Regions from separate parts of the Homo sapiens genome. Here regions 1, 2 and 4 are each linked to region 3. The links come from fine-mapping of genetic effects on gene expression. A gene starts in region 3. Each other region holds a variant in brackets. All regions are shown on one strand. Distances are from middle to middle. Region 1 overlaps SLC38A7 (solute carrier family 38 member 7). Region 2 overlaps CNOT1 (CCR4-NOT transcription complex subunit 1). Region 3 holds the start of NDRG4 (NDRG family member 4). Region 4 has its middle 22 kb from the start of NDRG4.

The links. PIP is the estimated chance that this variant, and not a neighbour inherited with it, causes the effect.
Region 1: its variant is fine-mapped to the expression of NDRG4 in fibroblasts (GTEx, PIP above 0.99).
Region 2: its variant is fine-mapped to the expression of NDRG4 in thyroid (GTEx, PIP above 0.99).
Region 4: its variant is fine-mapped to the expression of NDRG4 in spleen (GTEx, PIP above 0.99).

The regions. Positions count from the first base shown.
Region 1 is chr16:58,670,360-58,678,463 of GRCh38, forward strand. SLC38A7 (solute carrier family 38 member 7) reads right to left here. Exons shown (of 12, transcript NM_018231.3): 5 at 7,974-8,104; 6 at 6,967-7,065; 7 at 5,930-5,987; 8 at 5,581-5,695; 9 at 1,737-1,884; 10 at 686-885. Among named protein-coding and RNA genes, the nearest start is that of SLC38A7, 10 kb to the right of the region's middle. The variant T/C (reference allele first, on the strand shown) is at 3,784.
Region 2 is chr16:58,563,412-58,571,515 of GRCh38, forward strand. The region is part of intron 16 of CNOT1 (CCR4-NOT transcription complex subunit 1); the gene reads right to left. Among named protein-coding and RNA genes, the nearest start is that of SNORA50A, 7.5 kb to the left of the region's middle. The variant T/C (reference allele first, on the strand shown) is at 4,910.
Region 3 is chr16:58,495,739-58,503,842 of GRCh38, forward strand. NDRG4 (NDRG family member 4) reads left to right here and starts at 4,405. Exons shown (of 15, transcript NM_001242835.2): 1 at 4,405-4,531; 2 at 8,060-8,104. The coding sequence starts at 4,511. It also overlaps the pseudogene RNU6-103P. RefSeq lists enhancers at 1-448, 449-1,004, 4,263-5,079, 5,080-5,897, 5,898-6,714 and 1 more and silencers at 4,234-4,313, 4,324-4,383.
Region 4 is chr16:58,473,975-58,482,058 of GRCh38, forward strand. It overlaps a transcript of NDRG4 not described here. Among named protein-coding and RNA genes, the nearest start is that of NDRG4, 22 kb to the right of the region's middle. The variant G/A (reference allele first, on the strand shown) is at 4,139.

The DNA.
Region 1 (8,104 bases), 170 kb after region 3:
CTGACAAGACCCCTTGGGCAGCATGCTAGACTCAGCTAAAGGGACAGCACTCAATGGTGACTCAGTGGTGGCCCAACCCCAGGGGTCTTCCTAGTACACTTCCCAGCAGATCTGGCTCCCCTGCTCCAAGCAAAGCAGCTGGGGCTTTCAGGGTGGCTTCCTGGATAGAGACAAGCTGGAAAAGGGTGGAACTCATGGCTGGGCAGACAGGACAGTTCTCCAGGGATCTGGCGGTAGATCTGTGTCTGGAACCCAGGTTCCCTGATGTCTGTGTCAGGGTGCCACCCCAGACCCCACTGCCCTCTGGGCTGTAATGGGCTGAACCAGCCAGATAGATCCCTCATAGTCAAGGAGCAGCAGACACCTGAATGAATGGTTAAAAGAATAGACTCTGGACCCAGACAGCGTGGGATGGAAAAGGTTACTAGTTGAGTTTGTTAAGCTCTAGGCAAGTCTGTGACCCTTTCTGAGCCCCACGTGCCATCAGTAAACTGGAGATCACAACTATACCTTCTTTCCAGGAGATAATGCTTGGATAGGGGCTAGTACAGAGGCGAGACAGGTGATCAATTAGTGCTGGTGGTTACTCTCTCCTGCATGTTTTGAGCAAGTAGGGAGCTGAGGCTAGGCAGGCCCTGGGAGTCTGTGCTGTGGGGCTGTGAGATGGGGCGCCAGGGGTCCGCACCTGGGAAGACGAAGATGAAGCAGGCGGCCAGGCCTCCAATGACTGAGATCACCTTGCCGATGTCAGGGATGAAGAGCGCCAGCAGCAGGGTGAGCAGGAACCAGACCAGCGTCTGCAGCACTCGCCGCCGCCGCTCCCGCCCCACGTCCTCCTCCACTGGCACCCCCTGGTAGCGCAGCCACAGGCCTTCCACCACCGCCCTGCCCACATGGAGAAGGGCTTAGAGGTGCCCCTGCTGCTAGCAGCTCCCCACCTCTAGCTCACAGGAGCCAGACCCCTAACTGGGTAGACTGCGGGGAAAGCCCCATTCCTGACCCTCAGTTTCCTCTTCTGTAAAATGGGCCACCAGCACTCTGTTTACCACAGGGACTAGAGACGGTGAATGTCGAGAGCTTAGCACTTTGCTTTACATCACATGGAAACTGATATTGTTTTTTCCTTAAAAGGAACTGTCTGGGGCATCCAAAGGGGAGGGTGTCCATGTGAAAGCTCAGGAAAGGATCTGGATAGAGATTCTTTTGTTTTTTGTTTTTTTGAGACAGGGTCTGGCTCTCTCACCCAGGCTGGAGTGCAGTGGTGCAATCTTGGCTCACTGCAGCCTTGAACTCCTGGGCTCCAGCCATCCTTCTGCCTCAGCCTCCCAAGTGGCTGAGTAGCTGGGACCACAGGTGCATCCCACCACACCTGGCTATTTATTTTATTTTGTGTAGAGATGGGGTCTCACTAGGTTGCCCAGGTGGTCTTGAACTCCCAGGCTCAAGCGATCCTTCTGCCTCAGCCTCCCAAAGTGCTGGGTTTAGAGACGTGAGCCACCGTGCCATGCCATGGATAGAGATTCTTACAGGACTCACGGAATGTTCTGGTGACCCCAGGACAAAGGGCGCTTCTGACACCTGGCCTGGGATATGTAGGGACCCATCCTAGGCACCGACTCTTTTCTACAGGCTTCAGTTTCTCCTTCTACAGGATGGGGTCCACACAAGGCCAAAGGACCATGTTGGAAGCGCTCACAGGGGCTAGGAGGGGCCCTGGGGAGTGGAAGGGGGCTCACCGCCCACAGAAGTGCAGGATAGGGTAGGAGGTGAGCACGCTCAGGATGATGAAGGCTCGGGCAACGGCCACGGCCATGTCCTCCGAGGGATAGGACAGGAGCACGTCAGGATCCACAGCAGCTCCAAAGGTCAGGAAGCCACAGATGCCTGTGGGCAGGGACAACTGGGTCAGGGCAACCCTGGGAGGGTAGTGGGGTGGACTGTCCACTCCTCCTAGGAGCAACATCAGCCTGGAGGCTGCAGCAGCAGCTCTGGACACTTAGACGGAGGCTCAGAGTGGGAGATGGGGCTCCGATCAGATGCCTCCCTCCCTGACTTCTCAGATCCCCCATCGCTGGAAGCCCTCCAGCCCCCAGCTTTCTGAGCCTGAACTTGCCCAGCACATTCCCACCTCAGTGCCTTGGCACTGACTGTTCTGTCTGGCAGACCTTCAGATGCCATCTCCTTATCATTTGGGTCTCAGTTTAGATGTCCTTCCTCAGAGAATGCTTCCTGCCAGTCCATCTACAATGACCCCCACCCCAGGCACTCTCTCACATCACGCTGTCTTATTTTTCTTTTCTTTTTTGAGACAGAGTCTTGCCCTGTTACCCAGACTAGAGCGCAGTAGTGTGATCATGGCTCACTGCAGCCTTGACCTCCTCGGCTCAAGCGATTCTCCCACCTGAGCCTCCCAGGTAGCTAGGACTACAGGCAGATGCCACCACACCCAGCTAATTTTCTTGTAGAGATGGGGTCTTGCTACGTTTCCCAGTCTGGTCTTGAACTCCTGGGCTCAAGTAATCCTCCTACCTCACCCTCCCAGAGTGTGAGCCACTACACCCAGCCTTCTTCTTTTTTATTTTTTTGAGATGGAGTTTCACTCTTGTTGCCCAGGCTGGCACGCGGTGGCACGATCTCGGCTCAGTGCAGCCTCCACTTCCCAGGTTCAAGTGATTCTCCTGCCTCAGCCTCCTGAGTAGCTGGGATTACACCATGCCCGGCTAATTTTTTTTTTTTTTTTTTTTTTTTTTTTTGAGATGGAGTCGCGCTCTGTCATGCCCAGGCTGGAGTACAATGGCATGATCTTGGTCTCCTGGGTTCTCATGCCTCAGCCTCCTAAGCAGCTGGGATTACAGTCACCTGCCGCCACACCTGGCTAATTTTTTTTTTTTTTTGAGATGGAGTTTTGCTCTTTCACCCAGGCTGGAATGCAGTGGTGCGATTTCAGCTTACTGCCACCTCTGCCTTCTGGTTTTAAGTGATTCTCCTGCCACAGACTCCCGAGTAGCTGGGATTACAGGCGCCCGCCACCAAGCCTGACTAATTTTTGTATTTTTAGTAGAAATGAGGTTTCACTATGTTGGCCAGGCTGGTCTCGAACTCCTGACCTCGTCATCCGCCTGCCTCGGGAAGTGCTGGGATTACAGGCGTGAGCCACCACGCCCAGCCCTAATTTTTTTATTTTTAGTAAGATGGGGTTTCGCCATGTTGGTTGGGCTGGTCTCGAACTCCTGACCTCATGTGATCTGCCTGCCTGGGCCTCCCAAAGTGCTGGGATCACAGGCGTGAGCCCCAGTGCCTGGCCGTTTTTTTTTTTTTTTTTAAAGACAGGATCTTGCTCTGTCACTCAGGCTGGAGTGAAGTGGTACAATCATAGTTCCACTGTAGTCTTGAATTCTTAGACTCAAGTTCCTCCTGACTTGGCCTCCCAAGTCACTGGGACTACAGGCACATGCCACCATGCCTGGCTAATTTTTTTTTTTTGAAGACAGAGTCTCACTTTCTCCCCCAGGCTGGAGTGCAGCGGCGCGATCTTGGCTCACTGCAACCTCGGCCTCCCAGGTTCAAGTGATTCTCATGCCTTAGCCTCCCGAGTAGCTGGGATTACAGGCACCACCACCACGCCCGGCTAATTTTTGTAATTTTGATAGAGACAGGGTTTTGCCATGTTGGCCAGGCTGGTCTCGAACTCCTGGCCTCAAGTGATTCACCCACCTTGGCCTCTCAAAGTCCTGGGATTACAGGCGTGAGCCACCATGCCTGGCGGACGCCCAGCTAATTCTT[T/C]AATTTTTGTAGAGATGAGTCTCACTATGTTGCCGAGGCTGGTCTTGAACTCCTGGCCTCAAGCGGTTCTCCCATCTCAGCTTTTCAAAGTGTTGGGATTACAGGCATGATCCACTGGGCCTGTCCCCTAACACTCATTTCTCTCTTTTTTAGAGACAGGGTCTCACTCTGTTGCCCAGTTTGGAGTGTAATGGCATGATCATGGGTCTCTACAGCCTTGATCTCATAGGCTCAAGCGATCCTCCCACCTCAGCCTCCCAAGTAGCTGGGTCCACAGGTGCATGTTACCATAACCTGGCTAATTTTTAAATTTTTTGTAGAGATGGAGTTTCACCATGTTGCCCAGCCTGTCTTGAACTCCTGGGCTCCAGAGAACCTCCCACCTTGGCCTCCCATAGCTGAGATTATAGGTGTGAGCCACTGTGACTGGCCTCATCGCTTTCTAATTTTTTTTTAACTGTACTATCACACTGGTCTTTAAGTAAACAATAATACAAATAAAAATAATAACAATAATAATAGTAATTAATTTTTACAGGCTTATTTTCTGTCTCCCCAGCCAGGACATGAGCCCCAGGAGAATAGGGATTTGGCTGTTTGCCTCTCTTGTTCCTGGCTGTGTATTCAGAGGCTAGAACAGTATTGGCCCAGGCAGCTCCTACGGTCTATCCGTGGAAAGAACTCAGGGGATCCTTCTTCCAGGGTCTCCTAGACTTGCTCCCTCACCCCAACCACTCTCCACACGGCAGCCAGAGCCACCTTTCCCCGAACCACCCCCCTGCTTAAAACACTTCCTCGATGACTCCCAGCAGCCCTCGAGGCCCAACAGGATCTGGCTGCCAGTGCCTGTCTGGCCTCACTGCCTTCACCTGCCCCCATCACACACCACTCCAGCCACATAGACTTTCTTCCTGGCCCTGCCTCAGTGATTTGGTGTTTTGTGGTTCCTCTGCCTGGAACCCTTCTTCCCCAGCTCCTCCTCTTCTGGCTCTTTCTCATCATTTGGGCCTTCTCTGAGAAGAACCTTCTGTGAACCACTCCCAAAGCCACCCATCCAGTCCCATTCATACCTTCCCCATTTTAGGCTGGGTTGGTGGCTCATGCCTGTAACCCCAGCACTTTGGGAGGCCGAGGCAGGAGAATTGCTTGAGCCCAGGAATTCAAGACCAGGCTAGGCAACATAGTGAGACCTTGTCTCTGCTAGAAAAAAAAAAAAAAAAAAATTAGCTGGGCACAATGGCACATGGCTGTAGTCCCAGCTACTCTGGAGGCTGAGGCAGGAGGATCACTCGACCTCAGCAGGTTGAGGTTGCAGTGAGCTATCATCATGCCACTGCACTCCAGCCTGGGCGACAGTTTCTGAGACCCTTTCTCAAAACAAAATAAAATAGAATAAAACAAAACACACCTTCCCTATTTCACTGTCATCAGGATGCTTGCCACCATCTGGAATTCCTTACTGATTCCCCAGTTACTCCTGCATGACTGTCTCTCCAACAAGAATGTCAACTCCATGAGGGCAAGACCAGTTCTGTCTCTCTCCATGGCATCCCCCATGCTGAGAACCGTTCCTGGCACTTCCTAGGCACCAAGTTAGAACTGGTGAATGAATGGATGAATACACCACTCTCATCTTGGCAGGAGGAGGCTCCAGGCAGGCCAAGTTCAAGCCAATGCCTATACAAGTCATGCTGGGAATGCAGGGCTGTCCCCAGGAAAGCTAGGCCCCAGGACCTAGGGACTCCTGTGGAAGTGAGAGCACTCTAGTCCCAGGTCTTGGGGGGGGGGAGCACTCACCTGTCCCCATGTAGACAGCGAGGGCTATGACCATGGCAGCTGTCACCACTCCACCCCAGGTCTTCACTTCAGGCTGCTGCATGCTGTTGAAGACGGGCACACTGCTGACGTGGCACTGTCCAGGTGAAGGGCACCGTCATGGTGGGGAAATGACCTCAACCCCAGTTTCCAGAGGAAGGTACCTTGGGAACAAAGACCCCAGGAACAAGGGGCAAGTCCTGAGGCCCCTGTTCCATCCTTCCCCCCAGGATTTCCTCCATTCTGCCTGGGTTCCTCCTCCTTGCTGGGTTCCATCCCAGGGTGGGGTGATCTAAGGGGACAGCAGGGACCTTGCAACTGGCACTGGCACCTGAAATCCGAAGCAGATGGTGGGCATGGCATTGAACACAGCCATCCAGGAAGCCGGCCTGTGAACAAACACACATGGTGCTGCCACCTGGGAACCCCTCAGAGCCACAACCCACCCCACGCCCTCACTCTTCGGTCAGCCCACCATGGTCTCCAGCAACTGGGATTCCATAGCTTCAACCCACAGAAGTCTGGGAACAGGGAGAAGAGGCATCCTTATGTCCCAGGGCCCTCTGGGATGGGGCCTGGAGGTTCAGAAAAGCCCCCCTGGGGCCAAAATCCAGAATTCCTGGCTCCTGGACTGGGGCTTTTGCTTTACTGGTTTGTTCCTTTCAAAAGAAGGAAATTGTTTTTTTTGTTTTGTTTTGTTTTGTATTTTTTTGAGATGGAGTCTTGCTCTGTCACCCAGGCTGGAGTGCAGTGGCGCGATCTCGGCTCACTGCAACTTCTGCCTCCCAGGTTCACGCCATTCTCCTGCCTCAGCCTCCCGAGTAGCTGCTACTACAGGCGCCTGCCACCACACCCGGCTAATTTTTTTGTATTTTTTAAGTAGAGACGGGGTTTCACCGTGTTAGCCAGGATGGTCTCAATCTCCTGACCTCATGATCCGCCCGCCTCGGCCTCCCAATGTGCTGGGATTACAGGCGTGAGCCATTGTGCCTGGCCCCCCCCCTTTTTTTTTAATAATAAATTCACCCTCAAAGATACAGAAATTACAGATAAGCAGATGCTGGAAACACAGGCAATTCGACCCTGGGATTCCACCCTCAGGTTCCTCCACAACCCAAGGCCTAGCCTCACACTGGCTCATCTGTTGGATGTAGGTGGCAAAGTGCCTCCTGTCTCTGATTCTTGCTCTTCCTTCCAGTAACATCAGAGCAGGGGCTCTTTCCTCCTTCCTACAATGACCAAGTCAGCCCTGATGAGCTCATGAGCCTTGAGAAGAGCACCTGTGTGGCCTTCTGGTTCCTGACCCAGCACCTGCTGGGGCCCAAGTGGTGGCTTCTTCCCCATGTCTCCTAGGGCCCTCACCCTCACCTGGTCAGGATGTTCCCTGGGGTCATCTCTTTATCTGGCCAGATGTACTTGATGATAACGATGGCTGTGACGTACCAGGTACCCACGACGCTCAGGAAGCTGCCGGGAAGGAGAGACTAAGTGTCCTCATCCCCAGCTGCCTCTTATCTGATTCCACCCCTAGGGACATCCACCTTCAGCTCTAGCGACCACAAGTGTCCACTGAATGAACCGGAGACTATGCCAAGCAGACTCAGGAAACGCCTGAGAAGTAGTTTCAGAGAAACCTGCCACAGCTAGGAAGGAGCTGGACAGCCAACAGGGGACCTGATCAGCATTCCTGGCCATCAGGAAGTGCTGGTTCAGCTCCATGGCTCAGAGACGATGCAGAGAGCAGAGCTCCAAAGCACACCTGGGACTTGAATCAGAGCAGCCCAGCCCGGGCAGGGGCTGTGGGAGACCATCCTCTGAGCCTGGCCTTTGAGAACTAAGAGATGCCAGAGGTAAGAGGGTTGAGAGTACAGACACTTTTGTGTCAACATTTATGGGAGCCTTGGAGAGAGCGGAGCATGGCCCCTGCACTTACAGACGGGGAAGCCTAGAATCCCACAGCCTTTCAGACACCGAGACAGGAAACCAGTCTCCTTCCTTCATGCCAAGCTGCAGGTAAGATGCTGGTAGGCTGACAGTCTCAAAGACCCAAATTCCTCCCAGGGAATGCCAGGAGGCTGCCTTCACCGCCCAGATACCACCTGTTCCTTCTTTGACAAGGGCACTTAGAACTGAACTACTCATGGATGCAAAAGGACATTTAGAACTGAATCTCTCATGGATGCATCCTTTTTCTATGATGGAGACAGAAAAGGATGGTCTTATCTGAAACCCTGCAAGCCCCGGTCTGCCCTGCCTTGCCTACTCTTGCTCCCCAAGGTGAGGTGGCATGGAGGAGCAGGGTTCCCCAGGAGCCCTTGGGTCTACAGCTGCCCAGGATCATAGCTTCTGTCTGACCCAGGCTGGGGCCTCCAAACCTGGCATATTTCTGGAAACCAATCTCCCTGGGGATGGAGAGGGGCAGGATGAAGAGGAAGGCAGTGAGGCTGATGGTGAACTTGCGGTCTGTGTACCAAGGGCCGCTGGCCCCCTCCGGCTCTTTCGCCAT
Region 2 (8,104 bases), 68 kb after region 3:
CAAAGACAAAATTGCCTGATGACACATATCTCAGAAATGCATTCCTATTGTTATGCAATGCAGACCACAAAAAAGAAAAGGGAGCCTTATACTCCTAAAGGTATTGGTCTACTTATTTACTTTAGAAACAAGTAGAACATTAGTTTCCACAAAAATGCTCAAAATAATTAAAAGTATTTCAAATTTAAGGAAACAAGAGGTCCTCTGAAGCTTCATTTACAAATGTATCTGCATTCCAAATACTCCACAACAATTAAAACTTCATAGAGATACCGTATCTCCATGTTGTCCCATATCTCACCATAATAACAGGCACATACTATATTAGCAAGGCTGTGGGGAAATAGATGCAATAACACTGCTGGTTTTACAAAATAGAAAAATCCCTATGGAGGAAAATTTTGCGATACCTAACACAATCGCAGATGAATTTACCTATTATTCTGACACATCCACTTCTAGTAGTCCAATTATACATTGGTAAAAATGATGGATGCAAAACACTGCTCACTGCAACACTGTATGTGATACAAAAGCGAAAACAATGCAAATTTCCACCAGTAGGAGACTGGTTGACTACAGTACAGAACAGCCATTCAATGGAGTATTATGCAGCAAGTAAAAGAAATAAGGAAGCTCTCTAATTGTATGGAGTGAACTCTAGGATATAAGATCAAGAAGCAAGTTGCATATTATCTCTTCTACAGTGAAGGATAGGGATAAATATACGAATAAGTATGTATTTGTTTTTAATATAAGATAACCCAAAAATATTAATGATAGTGACTAACTACAGGAGAAAAGGAGAACAAGGTAGAGGTATCAGAGTTCAAAGGAAGATTTCTCCAAATGTATCTTGCTTTAGAGTTTTGACTTTAAAACCACACCTATATTTTACCAATCACAAAAACAAAAGCAAACAAACAAACCACTAAATTAAAAAGAAACTGTTCCAAAAAGACCAGTGCCATGGGTTAGAAAAACAGGGTACCAAGCAGTAGATGGTAATTATATTATACTGCATTGAATCCAAAATGCCTTCAATTGTGTAAGCCACACTAATATTTTATGTCCTATGCAAAAACAAAAAAAGTAATTCCACCAATTGTAATATAAGACACATCACCAATGAGACACATCATTTCAGAAATGTTAAAGTAGGAAGAAAAATAAAATGGGCACTTTAGAATAAAATATGGTAAATTAAAATATTCACCTTTACTATTTAGGGATAAATTCTTATTTCTTACACAGTTTCAAACTTAGAAGTGGCAAGAATTGGCCGGGTGTGGAGGATCACCTGTGGTCAGGAGTTTGAGACCAGCCTGGCCAACATGATGAAACCCCATCTCTACTATAAATGCAAAAAATTAATTAGCTGGGCAGTGGTGGCGCGCACCTGTAATCCCAACTACTCGGGAGGCTGAGGCAGGAGAATCGCTTGAACCTGGGAGGCAGATGTTGCAGTGAGCGAAGATTGTGCCATTACACCCCAGCCTGGGTAACAAGAGAAAAACTCCGTCTCAAAAAAATAAATAAATAATAAATAAATAAAAGAAGTGGCAAGAATATTACAATTAACTCCCACAAATGCTTCTCACGCCAATGGTATACATTTGCCTTATTAACCTAACCATTATTTCTATACTTTTCGCCCTGAAGCATTGGTTTGGATATACCATGAATTTATCCCTAAATGCTTCACTACATGTTTTCTTCTTTTTTTGAGACAGGGTCTCACTGTCGCCCAGGCAGGAATGCAGTGGTACAATTATGGCTCTGCCTCTGCCTCCTGAGTTCAGATGATCCTCCAACCTCAGCCTCCCCAGCTGCTGGGACTCCACGCATACAGACCATGCCCAGCTAATTTTTAAATGTTTTTTTTCAGAGACGGGGTTTCGCGACATTGCCCAGGCTGGTCTCAAACTCCTAAGCTCAAGCAATTTGCCCACCTCAGCCTCCTAAAGTGCTGGAGTTACAAGTGTAAGCCACCATGCTCAGCCTTCACTATATATTTTCTATGAACAAAAACATTTTCCTACATAGCCATGTAAAATCAAACATCAGAAGCTTAACAATGATAAAATAAATAGGCCATGTTCACATTATACCAACTATTCCCACAATGCTCTTCAAAGCTATTTTTCCCATTGCATTAAGTTGTCACCTCTCTTCAGGTCATTTAATCTGAAAGATTTTCTTAGCCTTTACGTGTTCTTCTTGACTTTATTTTTTTAAGTACAACTCAGGGCCAAGTGCAATGGCTCATACCTGTCATCCCAGCACTCTGGGAGGCAGAGGTGGGCAGATCACTTGAGGTCAGGAAGTTCAAGAGCAGCCTGGCCAACATGGCAAAACCCCATCTCTACCAAAAATACAAAAAATTAGCCAGGTGTGGTAGTGTGCGCCTGTCGTCCCAGCTACTCAGGAGGCTGAGGGAACTGCTTGAACCCAGGAAGCAGGGGTTGTAGTGAGCCGAGTTCGCACCACTGCATTCCAGCCTGGGCAAGAGAGCAAGACCCTGCCTCAAAAAAAAAAAAAAGTACAAGTCAGTTGTTTTGTAGAATGTCCCTTGATTTGAGTTTGTCTGATGTTCTAAATTCAAATTAGGTATTATAACCTTACAGAATAAATTACCTTGTATTCTTCTCAGTGCATTTTATGAAACACATGATGTAGGTTTCAGATGGTGATCACTTTGATCAGTAGACTAACATGGTATCTGACAGGTTTTTCTGAAGTTGTTTTCCCCCTTTGTAATTACAATGTAATTTGTGGAGAGATATTTTCAAACTACATAATTATCCTGCTCTTCAAACATATATCCATTACTATTAACACACATTAAAGATTACAACTCCATCGTAATTCTTCTATATTTATTAGTTGAAATAACTTTCCTTCTCTGGCATTTATTATCATCAGTATGGACTCAAAATACTTTGGATACATTATCTTATTAAATTTTTCAACAAGTACTGCTAATAGATCAATTAAAGAAATTAATTGAAACCTGGAAGTTAGGTAAACTGCCTTCTTACAATAAAAACATTTTGCGCAATTTTAACAGGCAATTAACTTTCCAGAATATTCCACTGCAGATGGATTAAAATGTATAAATGTAAAAGGTTACACTTTAGAACTTGAAACTGTAGAACATTTAGAGCTTATAGAGCAGAGTGCTTTGGAATGGATAATTATTTGTTGTACAAGGCAGTCTTGTGCACTGTGGAATGTTTAGCCAGTATGATTGGTTTCTTTTTTTTATTTTTGAGACGGAGTTTCACTCTTGTTGCCCAGACAGAGTGCAATGGCAAGATCTTGGCTCACCCCAACCTCTGCCTCCCGAGTAGCTGGGATTACAGGCATGCGCCACCACGCCTGGCTAATTTTTCTATTTTTAGTAGCGATGGGATTTCTCCATGTTGATCAGGCTGGTCTTGAGCTCCCAACCTCAGGTGACCCACCCTCGGCCTCCCAAAGTGCTGGGATTACAGCTGTGAGCCACCGCGCCCAGCCTAGTATCATTGGTTTCTACACTACTAGGTATTAGAGGCACGTTTCTCTCTAATTATAACAGCCAAAAAGACCATCAGGCCAAGCATGGTGGCATGCGTCTATAGGACCACCTACTCACAAGGCTCAGGCAGGAAGACTAAGCCAGGAGTTCAAGGTTGCATTGAGCTATGATTGTGCCTGTGAACATGCACTGTACTTCAGACTGTACAACAACACAGTAAGACCTCATAAGAAAAAAAGAAAGAAAGAAAAAAAAAGGCTGAGCATAGGTGGCTTATGCCTATAACCCCAGCGCTTTAGGATGCAGAGAGGACTGCTTGAGCCCACGAGTGAGCCATGATCACATTACTACACTCTAGTCTGGGTAATAGAGTGAGACTATTTAAACAACAACAAAAAGAAATAATGCTGGCCGGGCGTGGTGGCTCATACCTGTAATCCCAGCGCTTTCGGAAGCCAAGGCAGGAGGAGTGCCTCAGCTCAGGGGTTTGAGACCATCCTGGGCAACATGGTGAAGCCCCATTTCCACAGAAAATTAAAAATAAAAATAAATTTAAAAAATAGGCATGCATGGTAGCATATACCTGTAATCCCAGGTAATTGGAGGCAAGACATCATCTCAAAAAAAAAAAAAAAAACCTTCTCATAAAGCAAAACGACAGGGTATGGGCTGACTTCCTCTCCTTCATAAAAGCAACTAGAAAAGTGTCTGAATCAACTTTTTCAGAACTTTGGAAGTTAACCAAAGGCTTATAACAAGTGGGAAATTTTTATTCAAGAGACTATCAAGTTTTCTAGCACATTAATTTGCCCTATTATTCCCATCTCCAGCTCCACAGCCAGCTTAGAAGCTGACAGCCCTCAATCACAATGAAAACCAGAAGCCTGAGAGGTGAATCAAAACAGGGTTAAAACATCTTCAAAGCCTCCTTCTCAGTGAATTGTCATTATTTCATCTGTATAGGGAGTCTGTGTGAGAACACAATGACAAGGTTGGATTTATTTGACCTGAAAACTGACCCAAACAAAAACCTTTTCTGCATGAGGTGTTTACAAAAAACATTTGAAAGTAACTGTTTTAAACTTATTGCCTATCTGAGGTGGAAGACTACTACAGTTGGAGCAAACTACATACAGGCTAACTAAAAATCTGTAAAGAAGGCCGGGCACGGTGGCTCACGCCTGTAATCTCAGTACTTTGGGAGGCGGGCGAATCACCTGAGGTCGGGAGTTTGAGACCAGCCTGCCCAACATGAGAAACCCTGTCTCTACTAAAGAAAATACAAAATTAGCTGGGCGTAATGGTGCATGCCTGTAATCCTAGCTACTCGGGAGGCTGAGGCATTAGAATCACTTGAACCCAGGAGGTGGAGGTTGCAGTGAGCCGAGA[T/C]TGTGCCACTGCACTCCAGGCTGGGCAACAAGAGCGAAACTCCATCTCAAGAAAAAAAAAAAAATCTGTAAAGAAAAACTTTGAGCCGGGTGCAGTGGCTCAAGCCTGTAATCTCAGCACTTTGGGAGGCCAAGGCAGGCAGATCACGAGGTCAAGAGATCGAGACCATCCTGGCCAACATGGTGAAACCCTGTCTCTACTAAAAATACAAAAATTAGCCAGGCGTGGTGGCATGCTCCTGTAATCCCAGCTACTCAGCTGAGGCAGGAGAATCGCTTGAACCCCGGAGGTGGAGGTTGTAGTGAGCCGAGATCGTGCCACTGCACTCCATCCTGGGCGACAGAGCGAGACTCCGTCTCGATTTTAAAAAAAAGAGAGAAAAAAAAAAAACTTTGGAAGTAAAGACTAAGGTGGCTGTGAATTGCCTGGCTTAGTGCTGAATTGATTCCCAAGATTAGGTTTAAGAAAATCTCGTCAATCTTAGCTGACAACAAGGCTAACCAAGCAGGAACTTCAGTAGCCAACTATTATAAAGAACAGAATTAGTTCAGGAAAGTCACTAAACAAAAAAAGGGCAATAACGAACAATGTGCTCTGCTGAAGAAGGAAGATCTGATTCCAGGAAATGCCATATTATTTAAAGTTGTCTGTTTTCAACAAAAAAATTACAAGACTTGTAAAGAAACAAAAGGGTGTCCCATGCAAAGGGCTGGAAAGCTATGTAGAAATGATCCTTGAGGAAACACTGCTGTTGGACTTACTAGACAAGGAATTCAAATCAGTTACCAAACACATTTATTTTCATTTTATTTTGGTTTTTGAGACAGAGTCTTACTCTGCTGCCCAGGTTGGAGTGCAGTGGCACAAACTCGGCTCAGTGTACCTTCCATCTCCTGGGTTCAAGCAATTCTCTTGCCTCAGCCTCCCAAGTAGCTGGGACTATAGTCGCCCTTCACTATGCCTGGCTAATTTTTGCATTTTTAGTGGATACGGAGTTTTGCCATGTTGGCCAGCTGGTCTCAAACTCCTGATCTCAAGTGATCCACCCACCTTGGCCTCCCAAAGTGCTGCTGGGATTATAGGCTGAAGCCATGACACCCAGCCACTACAGAACACGTTTAAAAGAAAATATATCAAAAGAACTGAAGGAAAACATAGGAATACTATCTCAAAAAGCATGTCCATAGAAATTAGCAAAAAAAAAAACCAAAAAACAGAAATTCGTTTTTTCCCATCAGATACTACACTCTACAACATACCAAACAGAAAAAGTACAGTAACTGTAATAAAGTTTCACTAACCACATGTCCCACCACACATTCAAGCAGACAAAATAGTTCATTTGAAGATAGATCAATTAAAATTATCCAGCCTGAGAAAATGAAAAAAAAGGGGGTGGGGGGATGGGGGCTGAGAACTCAAGGACATGTGGAGCACTACTGAGTGTGCCACCACAAACATAATGGGAGTACAAGGAGAGAAGAAAAAGGTACGGAAAGATTTGTAGAAATAATGACTGAAAACCCGATAAATTTTATTAAAAACATTAATCTAGACACCCAAGAAATTCAATAAATTCTAAGTAGAATAAACTCAAAGAGATTCATACCTAGAATAACATAATCAAGCTGATGAAAGAAAAAAGACAAGGAGAGTATCTTACCAGCAGCAAGATAGAAGCAACTCATCACATACAATACTCAATAAATTAACAGCTGATGTCTCATCAGAAACCATGGAGGACAGAAAGCAGTGGGGGAGCATATTCAAAATGTTCAAAGAAAAGGAATGCCAACCAGGAATCCTTCATCTGGCAAAGCTATCCCCAAAGATACAGGAGGAATTAGGATATTCCCTAGATAACAAAAAGAGGTAATTCATTGCTAGCAGTCCTGCTGAAACAAGAAAAATTCAAGAATCCTGGCTGAAATGAAAAAACACTGAACACTGACCTGAATCCGTATGAAAAACTACTGGCAAAGATACACAGGTAAATACAAAGGACAGTATAAATCTCCTAATTAAAGAACAACTGGGCTGGGTGCAGTGGCTCATTTCTGTAATCCCAACACTTTGGGAAGCTAAAACGGGAGATCAGTTTGAGCCCAGAGGTTCGACACCAGACTGGGCAACATACTGAGAACCTCAACTTTACAAAAAATTAAAAAATTTATCAGGTGTGGTGGCACATGTTTGTGGTCCCAGCTACCTGGGAGGACCGCTTTGAGTCTGGAGGGTTGAGGCTGCACTGAGCTGTGATCGTGTCCTGCGTGGGCAACAGAATGAAACCCTGTCTCAAAAAAATAACTGCATGAAGCAAGAATTATAAACCTTTTGGTGATCACATAATGTATAAAGGTATAATTTGCATGACAATAATGGCAAAAATCAAGGGGAAGGGGACAAAGCCATACTAAATGAAATTTTTGGATCCTACCGAAACTAAAAGATTGGAGTAAGTTAAAATGTTAGTTTTAATACCCAAGGCAACCACTAAGAAACAAAACAAAAAATAAAGTCAAAGAAACATAGGAGTTAAGATGGTACACTACAAAATATCTATTTAACAGTAAGACAGGCAGTAATGGAAGAACAGAGGAACAAAAGTGACAAGAGATAGAAAGATTAACAGCAAAAGAGCCCTATATTATCAATAAATACATTAAATGCAAGACAGGCAGAATGTAGTAAACACAAACACAAATTCACAAACATGCTCCAACCATACCTTCTCTAAAAGAGACCTACTTCAAATTAAGACACATATAGCTTGAGAAAAACAAAACAAAACAAAACAAAAAACAAAACAAAAATATACCAAGCAAACCACCATAAGAGAACTATAATGGTTATACTAGTATCAAACAAAACAAATGTTTAAGAAAAAAACTGTTAATAGAGACAAAGACATTTTACAGTAAGGGTCAATCCATCAGAAATATGTAACCATTAAGGCCGGGCACGGTGGCTCATGACCATAATCCCAGCACTTTGAGAGGCCAAGGTGGGTAGATCACCTGAGGTCAGGAGTTCAAGGCCAGCCTGGGGAACATGGTGAAACCCCATCTGTACTAAAAGTACAAAAAAAAATTAGCTGGAAATGGTGGCGCACGCCTGTAGTTCCAGCTACTCCAGAGGCTGAGGCAGGAAAATCAATGAAACGTGGGAGGAGGAGGTTGCAGTGAGACAAGACAG
Region 3 (8,104 bases):
TGTGTGCTGGTCCCTCGGTCACGCGCCACTTCAAGGACGAGAGGGGAGACTTCAGGGCAGCCAATGTACATGTGCTCAGATCCTCCGGGAATGCCATCTCCAAGCACAAAGGGCTCTGGAGCTGGAAGGAGAGGCTAGGGTTCCGGCAGTGGGGAGTGAATGGGAGCCCAGGAGGTGGGATGGGAGGGAAGTGGTCGGGAGCTGGCCCAGGCTGGTGGGAAGGGACAGCCGGAGATCAGGGCAGGCTCACCAGGGGATTTTCTTTGTCCTCCATGCTGCAAATGAGGATGAGCTATGCAGGCAAATGGGCCCTGGAGGAGGGGGTTGGCCAAGTAAAATCTCAGAGCAGCCAGCCGGTGCCTCAACACACTGGTCCCACAGTGTGGGAGGCCGACGCCAACAGTGCTGATGCCAGCCCCAGCACACAGGCCCACGGTGTGGGGGACAGGCAGAGGGGAATCCTGGAGTCGTGGAGGAGACCCTACCATACCTCTGGGTTCCCAACTGCTGCTGCGAAGCTGCCTCTGGCCCCTGAGCCCTCTGAGCTGCAGCCCCGGAGTTGCGGGGCCCAGGGTGTGTGGGACCCCGGTTCTCAGGATCCTCTGCTTGGTAAAAGGCAGGTTGCATTAAAAGGCACCTTCCTGTCCACTCCTGTCACACCACATGGAGGCAGCATTTTTTTCGTTTTTTGTTTTAGAAAAGCAGCCACAAGAATGGATGGTCGTTATCTGGGCCAAGACCTGGCAGGGATTTTATCTCCTGCTCACTATGGCAGGCGTTGTCACTGTCCCCTGCCTCCGTGGGGGCAGCCAGTGGGGGAGGTAGTATAGCAGAGGGACTAACATGAGCCAGACAGACCTAGGTTCTGGCCCCGCCACTTCCAAGCATGTGACCTCCAGCCCAAGTCACTCCATTTGTCTACCGCATTTTCAGGGAGACAGGCAGCACGGACCTCCCGAGTGTTTCTAAGGCGATGGTGCCCATGGGCCCCTCATATGGACACTCAGCTGACCGTGACGAGTGGCCACCAGAGTGTGGAGTTAGCACCAAACTGCCTGGGTGTGGTTCCTGGCTCTGTGCCCACTAGCTGTGTGATGTTAGGCAGGTTACCAAACCTCCCTGTGCTTTATTTGCCTCATTTGTAAAGAGGGTATTAAGAGAGAAAATGAGTGCTCGCCCCAGCAGCACATATACCAAAATTGGAATGATACAGAGAAGATGAGCACGACCCCTGTACAAGAATGACCCACATATTCGTGAAGCCTTCCATACTTAAAAATATTTTCCAAAAAGAGGATAAAGGCTGGGTGTGGTGACTCATACCTGTAATCTCAGCACTTTCGGAGGCTGAGGCAGGTGCATCACTTGAGGTCAGGAGTTTGAGGCCAGCCTTGCCAATATAGTGAAACCCCATCTCTACTAAAAATACAATAATTAGCCAGGTGTGGTGGCAGGCGCTGGTAGTCCCAGCTACTTGGGAGGCTGAGGCAGGAGAATGGCTTGAACCCGGGAGGCGGAGGTTGCAGTGAGCAGAGATTGCACCATTGCACTCCAGCCTGGGCAACAGAGCAAGACCATGTCTCCAAAAAAAGAAGAAGAAGAAAAAAAAAGAGGGATAGAGAGAATGGGTAAAGCACTCCAAGAAAGCCTGGCACATGGAGGACATTTGAACATAGTGTTTGCCACTCTTGATTCTGAGACCTCAGGCCCACCCAGAGTGCTGGGGTACTAGTAGCTGCCGCTGCTTACTAGCCAAGTGAGGAAATTACCTAACCTCTCCAACTCTCAGTTTCCTCATCCCTTCTCATAGGTCCATGAGGATTATATGTATTATCCTTGCAGCTGCCTGTGCAGTAGGCACTGCTGTTTCTCCCATTTACATACGGAGGCTCAGAGAGGTTGATTGACTTCCCCAAGGTCACACAGCAAAGAAGTGGCAGAGCTATGAGTGGCACCAGGGTTTGGCTGGCAAGACCTGGGTTTGGCTGGCAAGACCTGAGCCTGCCTTGTCTGGCCACTGTAACTGCACAACCACCAGAAAAAGGGCCAACAATTTGGAGAGGCACACAGGCTGCCTCATTTCTCCCCTGCCAGGACCTGGGCAGGGGTGGGGTCAGATCTAGAGTGATTTCTGCAGTTTTTTCTGATTCTCACAGCAGCTTGGTGAGAAAGGCACACAGTCCCTGCTTTACAATTAGAAGCCTGAGACACAGAGAGGTTAAAAAAAAAATCTTGCCCAAGGTCACCCGGCTGGTAGGGGGCCAGGAAGGACTTAAACCCACGTCTGTGGGTTTGCAGACAGCTGAGCAGTCATGGAGGCTGTGGCTTGGAGTGGGCAGTGTCGCAGGTCAGCTTGTCACCTGGGTCCAAAGGTGGGGAGAGGCCACTCAGGGGTCAGAGGTTGGAGTGGGCGTAGGATTGGGTGGGGCCTTGGGGGACATGGGAGGGCATTGTGGGCAGAGGGCAGGGCTGTGCCTCAGTTTTCCAAGCCTCTTCCTGTGCCACAGTGCCTGCAGGAATGGGGAGCATGGCCAGGAGGTGACGGGCCAGGGGGACTCCCCATTCTACTTCCTGCTGCCCTGGGGAGCACAGGGCCTGTCAGTCTTCCCTAGGCCTCCAGAGTAAGAGGTGAGAGATGGAATAGGTGCCCCCAGGCAGAGGACATGACCAGCAATAGTGTACATAGCAGGTGTCGACCAGGTCAGCAGGTACCCAGAGATGAAGAGATGACCACTTTCTCCAAGGGCAGCCAGTCAGCATGCAGGGCCATCAGCATGGGCTGGGGTGAGTGGCGTGTTCCTTCTTCAGCAAGACAGGGAGAGGAAGCCGGATAGGAGGCAGCTACTGACGTTGACATGCCCACCTCCTGTAGACCCACCCGGCCCTTGTTCCTGGAGGCAACCAGTTTGGGGCTTGGCTCTCGGGTATCTGGGGAGCAGGACACTAGGGCTATCTCAGGCTCTGTGCCCTGACCCCACCCTTGCCCAGGCCCTGGCAGGAGAGAAATGGGGCAGTCTGTGTGCCTCTCCAAACTGTTGGCCCCTTTTCTGGCAGTTGTGCAGTTATCGTGGCCAGACAAGGCAGGGTCAGGTCTTGCCAGCCAAACCCTGATCCCACTCATAGGTCTGCCACTTCTTTGCTGTGTGACCTTGGGCAAGTCAGTCAACCTCTCTGAGCCTCCATATATAAATGGGAGAAACAGCAGTGCCTACTGCACAGGCAGTTGCAACGATAATACATATAATCTTCATGGATTTGGGAGCATAGGCACGCAGCAGCCCCCTTCTCTCTGTGGCTCCTGCTCTCCCAGCCTTGGGCCCCCTCCTCTGCTTCCCTCTCTGGCCTATTTCCTCTCCTCCTGTGCACTTCTTGGCCTTTCTTCTCCTCTGCTCACTCCACCTGCAGGCCTCGGGCGAGCTCGCCACCCAGATCCTTGCTGCCCAGGAGAACAGGGCACGGAGCCTGAGATAGACCTAGTGTTCTGCTCCCCAGAGACCCGAGAGCCAAGCCCCAAACTGGTTGCCTCTGGGAACGAGGGCCGGGTGGGTCTACAGGAGGTGGGCATGTCAATGTCAGCAAGCTGCCTCCTAGCCCCGCTTCCTCTCCCTGGTGGTCTGGAGCCCCTGGCAGCAGGGTGAGGGTGGGGAGGGCAGAGCTGGTGTGTGCCTGACCATACCCCTGGCCCTGCTATCTGCCCAGGGCCCCTGGCCCCCGGCCCCCAAACTCCATTTTCAGCATGTGGGGAAACCCCCTGTATCTGCGTGGGCAAGGTGGGATTTTCATCCCTGGTGGGTGGAGAAGGAGCAGCCCCTTGAAGCAGGGTGATAACCCAAGTTGCCCCAGAAAGCAGCAGCTCCCCAGGCCTCCACAAGGTTAAGCGATGGAACCTTCCTAATGGGAAGGCTGGGCGTGGGGGTCTGGTCCCCAAGATGTTGGGCTTGGGGCCCTCTCGGGCCCTCCATACTCCCCAAGGTGTGGGTCAAGGGCTCTAGCTGTCTGGGCAGTGCCCATGCACCCTGCCCTGCCCCGCATTGGTAAGCTGTGCATGTCTGTGACGACCCTGTGTGTACCTGACATGGGTGAGTCTGTACGTGTGGTCTCGGCTTTTGTATTCGGAGGATCCCGTGTGAGCTGCAGCTGTTGGCGTGTGCCTATGTGCTGGGGGCGGATGCAGGGGCTGGGGACCATCAAGGATGATGTGTGGCTGGGGTGGGAGGAGCAGTGACAGGGCTGGGGCAAGGAGGACTTCAGAAGCCAATTGGAGCCAGGCTTGTCTCCCAGCAGCCAATATGGGAGCTGGGGCTCCTGGTAAGCGAGTGGCTGCTCAGAAACCCTGCGGGGAGGAGGGGCTAGCTAGGCTGGGCCAGGATCCCTGTATAAATGGCCCAGGAGCTGTGCCCCATCACAGAGCCGACCATCTCCCACTCGAGCTGCCCCCGCCCTCTGGACCCGAGTGACTCAGGCCTTTGTTTGTCCTTCCTGGTAGAGGCGGGTTCCCTCCCTCGGCAAGATGCCGGAGTGCTGGGATGGGGTGAGTGAGGGCGCTGCGGGCATCAAGGTGGGCCGGGAGGATGGTGCATCCTTATGACCCACCGCAGGGAGGAAGTGCCCCCCTCAACCCACATCTGGTGGCAGCCCGGCCTTCAAATAGCCTCACCCTGGGGTCACTGAGACACGGCCAGAGTGCTCCAGGTTCCCTGGTGATCCTGTTTGCAGGAGTGGCTGGGGGCAGCTGCTAGTCAGAGCCCATAGCAGGGGCTGGGGGGAGCGTGTGGTTGGGGGGTGGGTGACATATCTGCAGGAAATGGAACGTGGAAGGCACTGTCTGACTTGGCTGCATTGCCCGTGTGGACCCGGGCGCTAGTGCCTGCATGTCCCTCTGACCGTGTGCCCTCTGGTGTGCGCTTGGATGGTGTCTGCCTTGGTGATGCCTGGGGCCATCAGGCCAGGGGGCGGGGGTGTCCTTGGTGAGCCCCCGAGGCTGTGTGCCCAGTGTGCGTGCCGGGTCTGTGCGTGCAGGGGCTGCCGTCCCAGTGGGCGGCCGTCTAGCTTGTTTGGATGGCTGCGCCAGTGTGATGGGAAGGACAGGCGGCCTCTTCCTTAGGAGCCACCTCACAGTTCCCAGGGCTCTGCTGCGCCAGCCGGGCAGAGGCAAGGAGGTCTGGGCCACACAGGAATGACAGCCTTTCAGGCAGGGGTCCCTGCTGGGGAGGAACGAGGAGGGGTTGCCTGCCTGCCTTATTTTGTAGGTGGGGGAAGGCAACGCTGGAGCCGTGAAGCTGGCAGGGCTAGGGGACCCCAGGTGGAGCCCAGGGCACCTCCTCTCGCCGGGGCATCAGGTACCCCGGCCCCATTCTTCCTCAGGAGGGAGAGGCAGGGGCAGACTCACCCCCACCCCCGGGCCCCACACGCCTGCCCTGCCGGTTCCGCAGACGATAGGTCACCCCGCACGCACGGAGGTGACGACGTCAGCACCTGCCCGCCCATGCAGACCCTGTCCCCTGAATTATTGATGCGGCTGACAGGCCGAACCACAGCACCACCAGCACCAACTCCCACACCGGCGCAAAGCCCGGCTCAAAGCCCCACTCCCCTCCAGTGCTCAAGGTCACAGGCGAGGGGAGACGGACCGACCGAGAGGAGCCGCCACAGCCCCCTCCCCTGCTGCCGCAGTGCTTCCCGCCTGCGCCTACCTGGAGGCGGGGCCGGCTCTGACGTCACCCAGAGCCAATGGGAGTGCTCGGCCCTGAGGGTTGGGGGCCTCAGAGTGCACCGCGCTGTGGCCCTTGTGGGGCTGCCCTTGCGCAGCGCTCCAAGGGACGGGGATGTTTGGCTTCGATCAGGCTGAACTGAGTCCTGAGCTCTCCGCAGAGGGTGAGAGAAGGCGTTAGGGAGGTTCGCAGCAGGGTTCAGCGAAGGTCACTGGACTTCGTAGGACAGGTAGCCCGGTGACGCCCAGGCCCAGCCCCAGCCCTTCCCATCCTGGGAGATGAGCCCTAGTAGAGCCTGATCACGTCACCTCAGGGGGATGGGGACAGGGGCGGCCACACCAGGGCTGGGAGAAGACAGTGGGGCCTCCTCAGCAGCAGAGAGCAGACACCCCTCACACCCCTCAGGCGGACCCGCACGCTGCGGGTCTGGGTTTGGAAGGCACCGCCCTGGGCTCTCGACGTCTGACCCCAGGAGGATAACTGTCCTTTATGCAGCAGGAGGCGCATTGCAGTTCTTTTGCAGCCCCACCCTCCAGAGCTGAGAGAACTCACAGGTGGCTGTGAAAGGGCTGCCTGGTCAGGAGCTCCCTCGGGTGGAACCTGATCTCCTGTGAACATGCAGCCTTCAGTGCACCGCCCTGGCCCCTGAGACTGGCACCTGGCAGGGCCTGCCCTCCCTACTCTGGGATTGACCTTGGGCAAGTCATTTCCCTTTCCTAGCCTCAATTTCCTCCTCTATGGCTTGGGCCTATGTGGGAAGTAAATGAGAAAACTGTGGGTCAGTGGTCAGTGGCGGGGAAGTGTTCCTGGATTTGATGGGCCCCGAGAAAGGATAGGCCTGGGATGGGAGGGGCTGTGTGGTCTGTCCCCTCTCAGCCCTGGTGTGGCCTCCTCATCCCCTGGGTGGTGCAATCAGCCGCATGGCTCACCCTAAGGCTCATTACCTGGGCTCTCCTGGAGGACAACAGGGAAATAAAAAGGGCCTGCAAGTCAAAGAGTGTTCTCCAGGGTAGAGCCTTTGGCCACCAGGTTGGTGCCAGCTTGTCACTCCACACTGGAGACACAGGCCTGGACAGTGGTCCTCTGAGACCAGACCCACTAATGCTGGCCCCTGAGCAGCTGTCTTCTGCTGTCTAAATCTCCTTTCCCATTTGGAGGCAGGAACTCAGGTTCTTTCTAAACCAAAGTGTCCTCACCTGCAAAACAGGGACTAGGGTTCCTGTCTCTTGGGTAACATGCAGGAAGCCTGGCACACAGTAGGTGCTCAGTCGCTTGATGTTTCTTTCATGTCCTTGACCCCAGCCCCACCTCCAACTCACTGGGCCACTCACGTGGTTCCCAGGGCTCACAATGATGCAGAGAGGATCGGTTTATTTAGCTCAGATGGCCCCTCTTGAAGTTTGCCCATCCGAGTGGCTAAGAATGCCCAGTTTGCAAAGGAACAGCGAGAAGGGCATTCTCCCAAGGCTCAGGGATGCCCTAGCATAACAGCCCCCTTTCTGGGGCTTTCTCCAAGTGCTAAATGCTCCACAAACATTGGCTTGTCTAGTTCCCGCAAAGTCCCTGTGAGGTGGTTCTGGATGGAGAGGCTGAGGCACAGCAGAGAAGTAACATGACATGCTCAGTCACAAGTAAGGGGTAGAACCAGGTCTTCCTGAGGAAGTAATGACCTTGAGCAGCAAAACCAAAGGTGTGAACTCAAGAGGATCCCAGAGCAGGCTCTGCAGAAGGCCTCTAGAGGGGATGGGGAGGGGGGTCTGACCCGGGCCTGCCTGAAGGGAGCCCTTGAGGATGCTGGGCTCACACAGAAGGGCGTTCAAGGTGGAAGGAACCACATGCGCAAGAGCCTTAGAGTGGGAGCCAGGGGCAGTGCCGGGGTCGGGGCTAGGCTTGGCTGGCACGGGGTGTTTTCTGAGGATTCCAGGCAGGACCACTGAGGCCGTTCCCCTGCAGCAGCAGGAAGTGCCTGAGAGTTCTGAGTGTGAGAGGGACTTGGGCTGGGGAGGCAGAGCTGTCCAGGAGGGGCTGCTGCAAGATGGAGAAAAACAGCCTCCCTGGACCCTCAAGGGCGGAGGACAGTGACAGCACAAACCAGTGGCTGGTTTGCAGAGAGGACCAGACCTTCCCCATGCAGATCAGTTCACATTGTCTCTGTACTGAACAGCCCTGAGAAGGGGTGTTCCATCCATTCAGTCCTCTCTGGGGGCTTCTTGGGGTGATGAGAACAGGATGCCCCAAGTAGGGGCTCTACCACAGGCCTAACAGGTACCAGGCTGCGTCACCTCATTCCCCAGAGGAGCCAAGAGCGGAGGCTGCCCAGAGTGTCCAGCACGGTCTCTCCCCTTCAGGAACATGACATCGAGACACCCTACGGCCTTCTGCATGTAGTGATC
Region 4 (8,084 bases), 22 kb before region 3:
CCTGGCTCACTCTGCTCCAGCCACCCTGGTTTTTTCACTTTTCTTTTCTTTCCCTTTTTTTTTTTTTTTTTTTTTTTTTTGAGAGAGAATCTCTCTCTGTTACCCAGGCTGGAGTCCAGTGGCGTAATCTCAGCTCACTGCAACCTCTGCCTCCCAGGTTCAAGTGATTCTCCTGCCTCAGCCTCCCAAGTAGCTGGGATTACAGGTGTGCACCACACACCACACACCCGGCTAACTTTTGTATTTTTAGTAGAGACGGGGTTTCACCATGTTGGCCAGGCTGGTCTCGAACTCCTGGCCTCAAGCCGTGCACCTGCCTTAGCCTCCCAAAGTGCTGGGATTACAGGCGTGAGCTGGCTTCCTTTCATTTGCTTGCCTGACCGGCTTCCTTTCGTTTGCTCAAACATGCAGGCGCCTGCCTCCTGGCCTTTGCGCTTGCTGTTCCCCCTGCCCTGAGTGCCCTTCCCGGACATCCCAACGCTCGCTCCTGGATCTCCTTCAAGTCTTGCTTGCCTCCCCTTCTCAGCAGGTGGCTTCTCACTCTTACCACCCTGTTTCACATCCCTCTCTCTCCCCTCCTGTGAAGCTGCTTCCTGCATTGCTTAGGTCGTCTGACACTCTGTGAATTTACTTAGGTTTGTTGATTTTTTGCCTCCCCTCCAGCACCCAGAAAGCTCCCGAAGGTAGATATGTTTGTCTGTAATGGTCAGTATTTTATCTCCAGTCCTAGAACACAGTAGGTGCCAAATCAGTATCTGGTGAATGAATAAATGACTTAGGCCTGGGCCACTCCTGGGGTATGGACATTCGGGCCCAAACCACATGTACTGAGAATGGGGAAGGGAGGTTTCCCAAAAGGAAACCCAGTGCTGTTAGGAGAAAGGACCTTGGTGTCAGGTGGGGACCAATGCAGGTAGCCCCTTCTGCAGACATTGCATTTGAGGCAGGAAAGCTCTGGGAGTTGCTTGGAACAGAGTCCCTCTCTGCCAGATGAATGTCATTCCTCAAATGCTAATAAATTAGGCATTTCAGAGAAGTAAGGGGCTTTCCGTGACAAAAATGCCCAGTAAGAAAGATGCCCCTCGGGCTCTCTCTTTACTGGAGACTGTATTGCAGACTCCTGTGCCAGAGAAGTTTCATTGACTCAGTTTACCTGTTTGAATCTTGCACAAAGATCCAGGATATGTGTATCTGGGAAATTTGCCAGCTTGGGCAAAGATACACAGCTGAATTGAGTGAGGCACCCGTGTAAAAGAAATGCGAGAATTCGTGACAAAAAGTGCCAGTTGCTTTTAACCTTTTAATGTAGGTCATGGTTACCCATGTCAGTATAATTATTGTGAGCTTGTGAGGTGTGGGTTAGGAGGGGCTGGCTCACTGGTTTAAACTGCCAGAAGAGAATGGCATCATGGATTATGCTGCCTGCTGGAGAGAGGAAGTTGCAGGTTTGCTCTAGCATTTCCCTGTTTTTCTCTGGGAAAGCCCCACCCTTTCCTTTTTCCTTGATTTCCTTTAGCACGATAGGGTGGGTCTCCAAGAAAAATATCCCAAGTTTAGATTAGCTTCAGCTGTGTGTAACAGAAAACCCATGGTAATAATAAGTAAGATAAAAGTATTTTTTTCTCTCTCATAACCAGGATCTCAAAATAGAGGATTCCCAAATCATGGCTTCATGATTCTCAGGTACCTTGACTCTTTATTTCTATATCACTACTATGCCACCTTTAGAATCCTGCCTTTGAGCCTAAAATGGCTGTTCAAGCTCCTGCCATCACATCTGTATTCCAGCCAGGAGGCAGGAGGAAGAGTCAAAGAATGGCATGTCTCCCCTTTTTTTTTTCAGACAGAGTCTCACTCTGTTGCCCAGGCTGGAGTGCAGTGGCACAATCTTGGCACACTGCAACTTCTGCCTCCCAGGTTCAAGTGATTCTCCTGCCTCAGCCTCCCAAATAGCTGGGGTTACAGGTGCTGGCCACCACACCTGGGTAATTTTTGTATTTTTAACAGAGATGGGGTTTTGCCATGTTGGCCAGGCTGGTCTTGAACTCCTGACCTCAAGTGATCCACCTGCCTCGGCCTCCCCAAGTGCTGGGATTACAGGCATGAGCCACTGCGCCCAGCCATGTCTCCCCTTTTAAGAACACTGCCTGAAAGTAACATGCTTCCATTTACCTCGCACTGGCAGAACATCACGTCATCATAAACAAATTTTATTCCCATCATCCACCTACTCATCTAAAATATGGGGATTATTATTAAGGAAGAAGGGGAGAACAGATATGGGGGGATAATTAGCAGTCTCTGCTGCAGTAGGACTCTTTCACTGGTTCCCTATAGAAGCTGCCTAAATGGAATGTGTTATTGGAATTCTAGTTCCATCTGGCCTTGCCCTTGGTCTTAGAATTAGAGGCCTGTTGTGTCTATTGTAATGTCCGTGCTTAACACCTGGAGCCATGTTGTGTAGAGAAGCAGAGTTTACACGTTGGTGCTGTACATCACCTTCTTACTTTATGAAAGCGCTGTGTTATGTCCTTTCTAAGATGCACCTTTTTTTTCATACTTTAACATCTCTAAGATTGGGATGCATCATACAGTCTCTGTTGGCAAGGGGGGCCTCATGCTGTTACTGCCATCACATGAACATCAGAATTTGCGAGTGGATGTCAGCAGCTCAGAAGGAAATCCCAGAGATAGTAGTAGAGCATCCTTGATGCTGGAGAAGCCCAGGCTGTGTGGAATAGCACAGCATTAAAAACTCCATGATAGAGAGATTAAGAGACATTGGACTCGAAATGTGAAAAGGAATACCTTAAACAATTTATTTCAATTATATTTTCCTTTTTAAAAATTTACAAAAGTGATAGATGCTTTTTTAAAATCTGGATCTAATATATTCTAAAAGAGTTCTTTCAGTAAGTACAAAAAAACCCCTGAATGACAGGAACTCATCATAAGGGTAGCAGTTCTGACACTACTTTATATGTATCCCAGGAATGAACAAATAAGCAAAAATATTATGGATGAGAGCCAGGTTTCTCACCACTGGAGAAAAACAATTGCAATCAAACGGGGGAAGCTAGAATGCACTCTGTGGTGTTGAATTAGAGTTAAAGGGATCAGTATAAATTCCAGATTCCATATATATGATATATATGTGATATATATATGTGTGATATATATATATGTGATATATATATATATATGTATGTGTGTGTGTTAGTGTCTTGCATACATTTCATAGCTCTGCCTGCTAAGAGGGCCTAGACCAATGACACCCCAGTAGCAATGAGCACACCTGGTGTCCAGATCTTGATTTCTAAACGTCATTCTCCAATAAAGGGAACTAGGTCTCCTTGGAGAAATGGTTGATTTCATGGTTGAGGCAGAGAAAGTACAAGATGAGTTTAGAACATGTAATGAGGCTAGAATATTTGAAACTCAAAAAATAATGGGTACATGTTGAAAGCACAAAAGAGCCACCTTAAGGGAACTCCCAATGGCCAAGCCTGGCCCAGTTTGAACAATGAAACAAATAATGATAGCAATGGCTTTTAACCCACAGGGTAAAATAAATATCCATGAGTCCTTATTGATATAAATAAGTAATTGAATAAAGGAGGAAAAAGGACAACTCTTTCTTACAGGATAATTCCAATAAGTGTAGAAGAGATTATGGAAATAGAAAATTATCTTCTTTTCCTCAGCAGGAAAAAAAAAAAGAAAATTATCATTAGGCAACCACCAAAGTAATAATTGCTGTAGGCAAGAATCAATAGTTGTTAAAATTAGCAGGGGTAAGGGGGGTGGAGGGGGTGGGGAAGTATGATGAGACATAGGATGTTTACATAGTGTCAAAGTATCTTCCCACACTGCTTACAAAGGGAAAAATAGTAACATTTCAGTGGAGAAACCTGGCAGAGAGCTCCTTATCAAGGGATCAAGGTTAACGTCCTCTGTAATAAGACAGATTGACATCATGTGCCTGCTGATACAAACTGAGAAGGGCACCTCCTTCTGTCGTATTCTTGCCAAAAATGTATAACCTCAGTCTAATCATGAGAAAACAACAGACAAACCCAAAGCGAGGACATTCTACTGACTAACTGGCCAGTACTCTTCAAAAGTGTCAAGGTTGGCC[G/A]GGTGTGGTGGCTCACGCCTGTAATCCCAGCACTTTGAGAGGCCAAGGTGGATGGATCACGAGGTCAGGGGTTTGAGACCAGCCTGGCCAACACGGTGAAACCCTGTTTCTACTAAAAATTCAAAACTTAGCCAGGCATGGTGGCGGGCACCTGTAATCCCAGCTACTTGGGAGGCTGAGGCAGGAGAATCACTTGAACGTGGGAGGCAGAGGTTGCAGTGAGCCGAGATCGCGCCATTGCACTCCAGCCTGGGCGACAATATGAGACTCCATCTAAAAAAAAAAAAAAAGTGTCAAGGTTATAAAAGATGGGCTGATAAACTGTCCCATTTGGAGAAGGCCAAGGAGGACATACCAACTAAATACGATGTGGCATCCTGGGTTGGGTCCTAGACCCAAAAAAGGCATTATTAGGAAAGCTGGTAAAATATATGTACGTTCTGTATATTACTTAACAGTATGTATCAGTGTTTAATTTCCTGGTTTCTCTAATTGTATTATGGTTCTGTAGCATGATAACATTGGGGGAAGCTGAGTGAAGGGTATGTGGGAAATGTCTGTGTTTCTGTGCTTTTTTGTTTTTTGTTTTTTTTTTTTGTAATTTTTTTGTAAGCCTAAATATTTTTCAAAATAAGTTAAAAGGGGGGAAAGTATTATGTCTTCATTTAACTGGCAGTGGTTTTTTTTTCTTATTGATACATAAAAATTAGTGTCACTTGTAATCAGTGATATCTTAGATTTGATAAAATCTGGTGTATAGGATTAAAAAAAGAATCTCCCTTTTATACCCTTCTAAACCCATATCCTTCCTCAGAGAGAAGCATTGTTACAGTTTACCCTGAATCATTTGAGGATTTTTTTTTGGAAGTTGCCAATATATGTACCTGTTCAATGCATATAATTTTTACATAAATGAGATTATTATTATTATTTTGAGACAGAATCTCACTGTGTTGCCCAGGCTGGAGTGCAATGGCGTGATCTCGGCTCACTGCAATCTTCGCCTCCCAAGTTCAAGCAACTCTCCTGCCTCGGCCTCCCAAAGTGCTGGGATTACAGGTGTAAGCCACTGTGCCCAGCCATAAATGGAATTATTTTTACACATTATTTGGTGACATGCCTTTTTTTCTTAATTGCATATTTTAGAATGCTTTCCCACTCTGTTTGAGTGGAGCTGCCTTGTTTATTTAATGGCTGCATGGTACTCCAGGGTGCAGATGTTCCATAATTTATTTCACCATCCTCCTGGTGCTCACTGAGGTGGTTTCCAGATTGTACTCCTCCACTCGGCTGTGCAGTGAGCACCCTTGTGTACTGCCTCTTAGTGCACACATGGGTGTTTTTCTTTAGGATAAATACCTGGACACAGAATTGCAGAACTGACAGATATTTGCATTTAACAGACTACCAAGTTGTTCTCCAAATAAAGTTGAACCCACTGCCATCCAGCCAGCAGCATGAGTGTGTGCCCACTTTCCCAGAACCTCACCAACCTTGCACATTATCAGTCTTTTAGTAAGTTGTGGTCTGTGTGAAGAATGATTCATTCGTTCATTTACTTACATGATTGAACAGAAATGTTGAGTGTCTGCCCTGTGCCCAGCACTGTCATAGACACAGGGAACATCCGAGCGAACAAAACAGATGTAGTTCTTGTCCCCTAGGAGTGTCTGAGGAGCAATGGTCTGAGCAGGTCATGTTGCTCATTGTTTCACGTGCATTTCTCTGACGGCCAGTGAGGCAGAGCAGATGCTTTTCCTGTGTTGTTTCTTCTCTGAATTCCTATTCCAGACCTTCGCCCACTTTTCCATTGAGTGCATAGTATTTTCTTTCTCCTTATTGAGCCCTAGAATGGGAGTGCTACTAAGTCTGTCCCCTTTAGGGGATTTCGGCAAACCTGGTGGGGAGACTGGAGACACAGGTAGGATTTGAGAGGAAGGAGGGAGCCCAGACCAACCTGTAGGAGGTGGGGAATGTGCAGAGGCTGCATCTGCCCCTCCGATTTTTTGTTTGTTTGTTTGTTTTTGAGACGGAGTCTTGCTCTGTCACCCAGGCTGGAGTACAGTGGCACGATCTAGGCTCACTGCAACCTCTGCCTTCCAGGTTCAAGCAATTCTCTTGCCTCAGCCTTCTGAGTAGCTGGGATTACAGGTGCCTGCCACCACGCCCGGCTAATTTTTGAATTTTTAGTAGAAACAGGGTTTCACCATGTTGGCCAGGCTGGTCTCAAACTCCTGACCTCAAGTGATCTGCCTGCCTTGGCCTCCCAAAGTGCTGGGATTACAGGCGTGAGCCACCGCACCCGGCCCTGCCCCCTCCAAGTTTTGTGGCCAAACTCACTGACCTGGAAGCCTCTTGACAGCCAGCCCTGTCAAACAGCCTTGTACCAGAGTGGCCTCACCACCTTGGTGGTGTGCATTTGAATACTGCTTTATGCCTATAACTGACATTGGAACAGTGGCATTTGAGCAACAAAAATGTTTATCCTGTGCTTTCCTATGGCTTCTGTGGACAGGTCAGCCGTGGAGATTTCTGGCCTGTCCTCCATCCATTTTACCAGTTATTAAGCCTTTGTGTGTTTGGACTCTGATAGGGTTGGACAAATGAACAAGATCAGGTCGCTGTCCTCTGGGAGATGACAGTAGGGAGATTAAACCACTCATCCATGCATCAGTGGGTTAGCAAGATGATAGAGTCCCAGCCTGGCCAACATGGTGAAACCCCATTACTACTAAAAGTACAAAAATTAGCTGGGCGTGGTGGCAGAAGCCTGTAATCCCAGCTATGTTGGGAGGCTGAGGCACAAGAATTACTTGAACTCAGAAGGCGGAGGTTGCAATGAGCTGAGATCGTGCCACTGCATTCCAGCCTGGGCGACAGAGTGAGACTCTGTCTTAAAAAAAAAAAAAAAAAGATGATAGAGTCCACACATGAGCATATGAGCTCCAGACCTGGACATCATGGGTTCAAATCCAGGTTCCATCACTTACCAGTCGTAATACCTTGGGCTGGTTATGTCACCTGTGTATGCCTCACTTCCTCAGCTACAAAATGAGGACAATAATAGTACCTACCTCCATGAGGAGTTAGGAGGACTAAATGAGCTTATACATGTAAAATGCCTGGAACATAGCATTCATTAATATTAAGGATTGTTTTTCATATTGCTCCCATTGTAGGGATATGATGGGGAAAGGCACTCTAGGCAGAGGGAACAGCATGAAGAAAGGCATGTGCTTCCCATGGGGAGGATGCGCCTACTGAGTCAGCCCGGGTCTTTAGCCAGGAGTGCCAGAATCCAAATATGGCTGCCTAAGACAGTGGGAATGTGCTGGGGGTGCGTGCGTGTGTGTGTGCGCGCGCATGCAGGGTGGTGGTGTGGTTGGTGAGGGCATAGGGATTCACAGGCTCAACCCAAGGAAAAAGCAGAACTGGTCAAGTTCAAGTTTGACATAAATCAAGGAGCCATACCTAGATATGGAGCCTGGGCTGGAGAAATAATGTCCCTTGCATCCTCCTGTCCTGCCACCCACCCGGGGAGGCGGAATGCATGTAGGCGGGTGGAAGCATGCACTCTGGGTCCCCTCCTGGGTTGGCCACAGGAGGACTTGCACCAGTCAGTTGCTCCTTCCTGTGCCTCTTATTTCTCATCCGTGAACTGGGAATCCTGAGGGAAGATTGAGCCCCCATCCCTGCCCCACCCTCAGTGCTGTCCCAGGCCTAGGAGATCAGGATAAGGACAGGGAGAGAAATAAGAGGGTCCAGTTCCCTGGACAGTTCCAGACCCCCTATATAGTGCAGTTGGAAGGTGATTCCCCAATTTCCGGGGTCCCAGATTTCTGGGGCTTCTTTTCCAACCAGGCACTGGTGTAGCGTCGGGTAGGGTGGTGGCCCATGTATCACTGAGCACCAACTCTGATCCAAGCAGTAGGGATACACCAGGCCC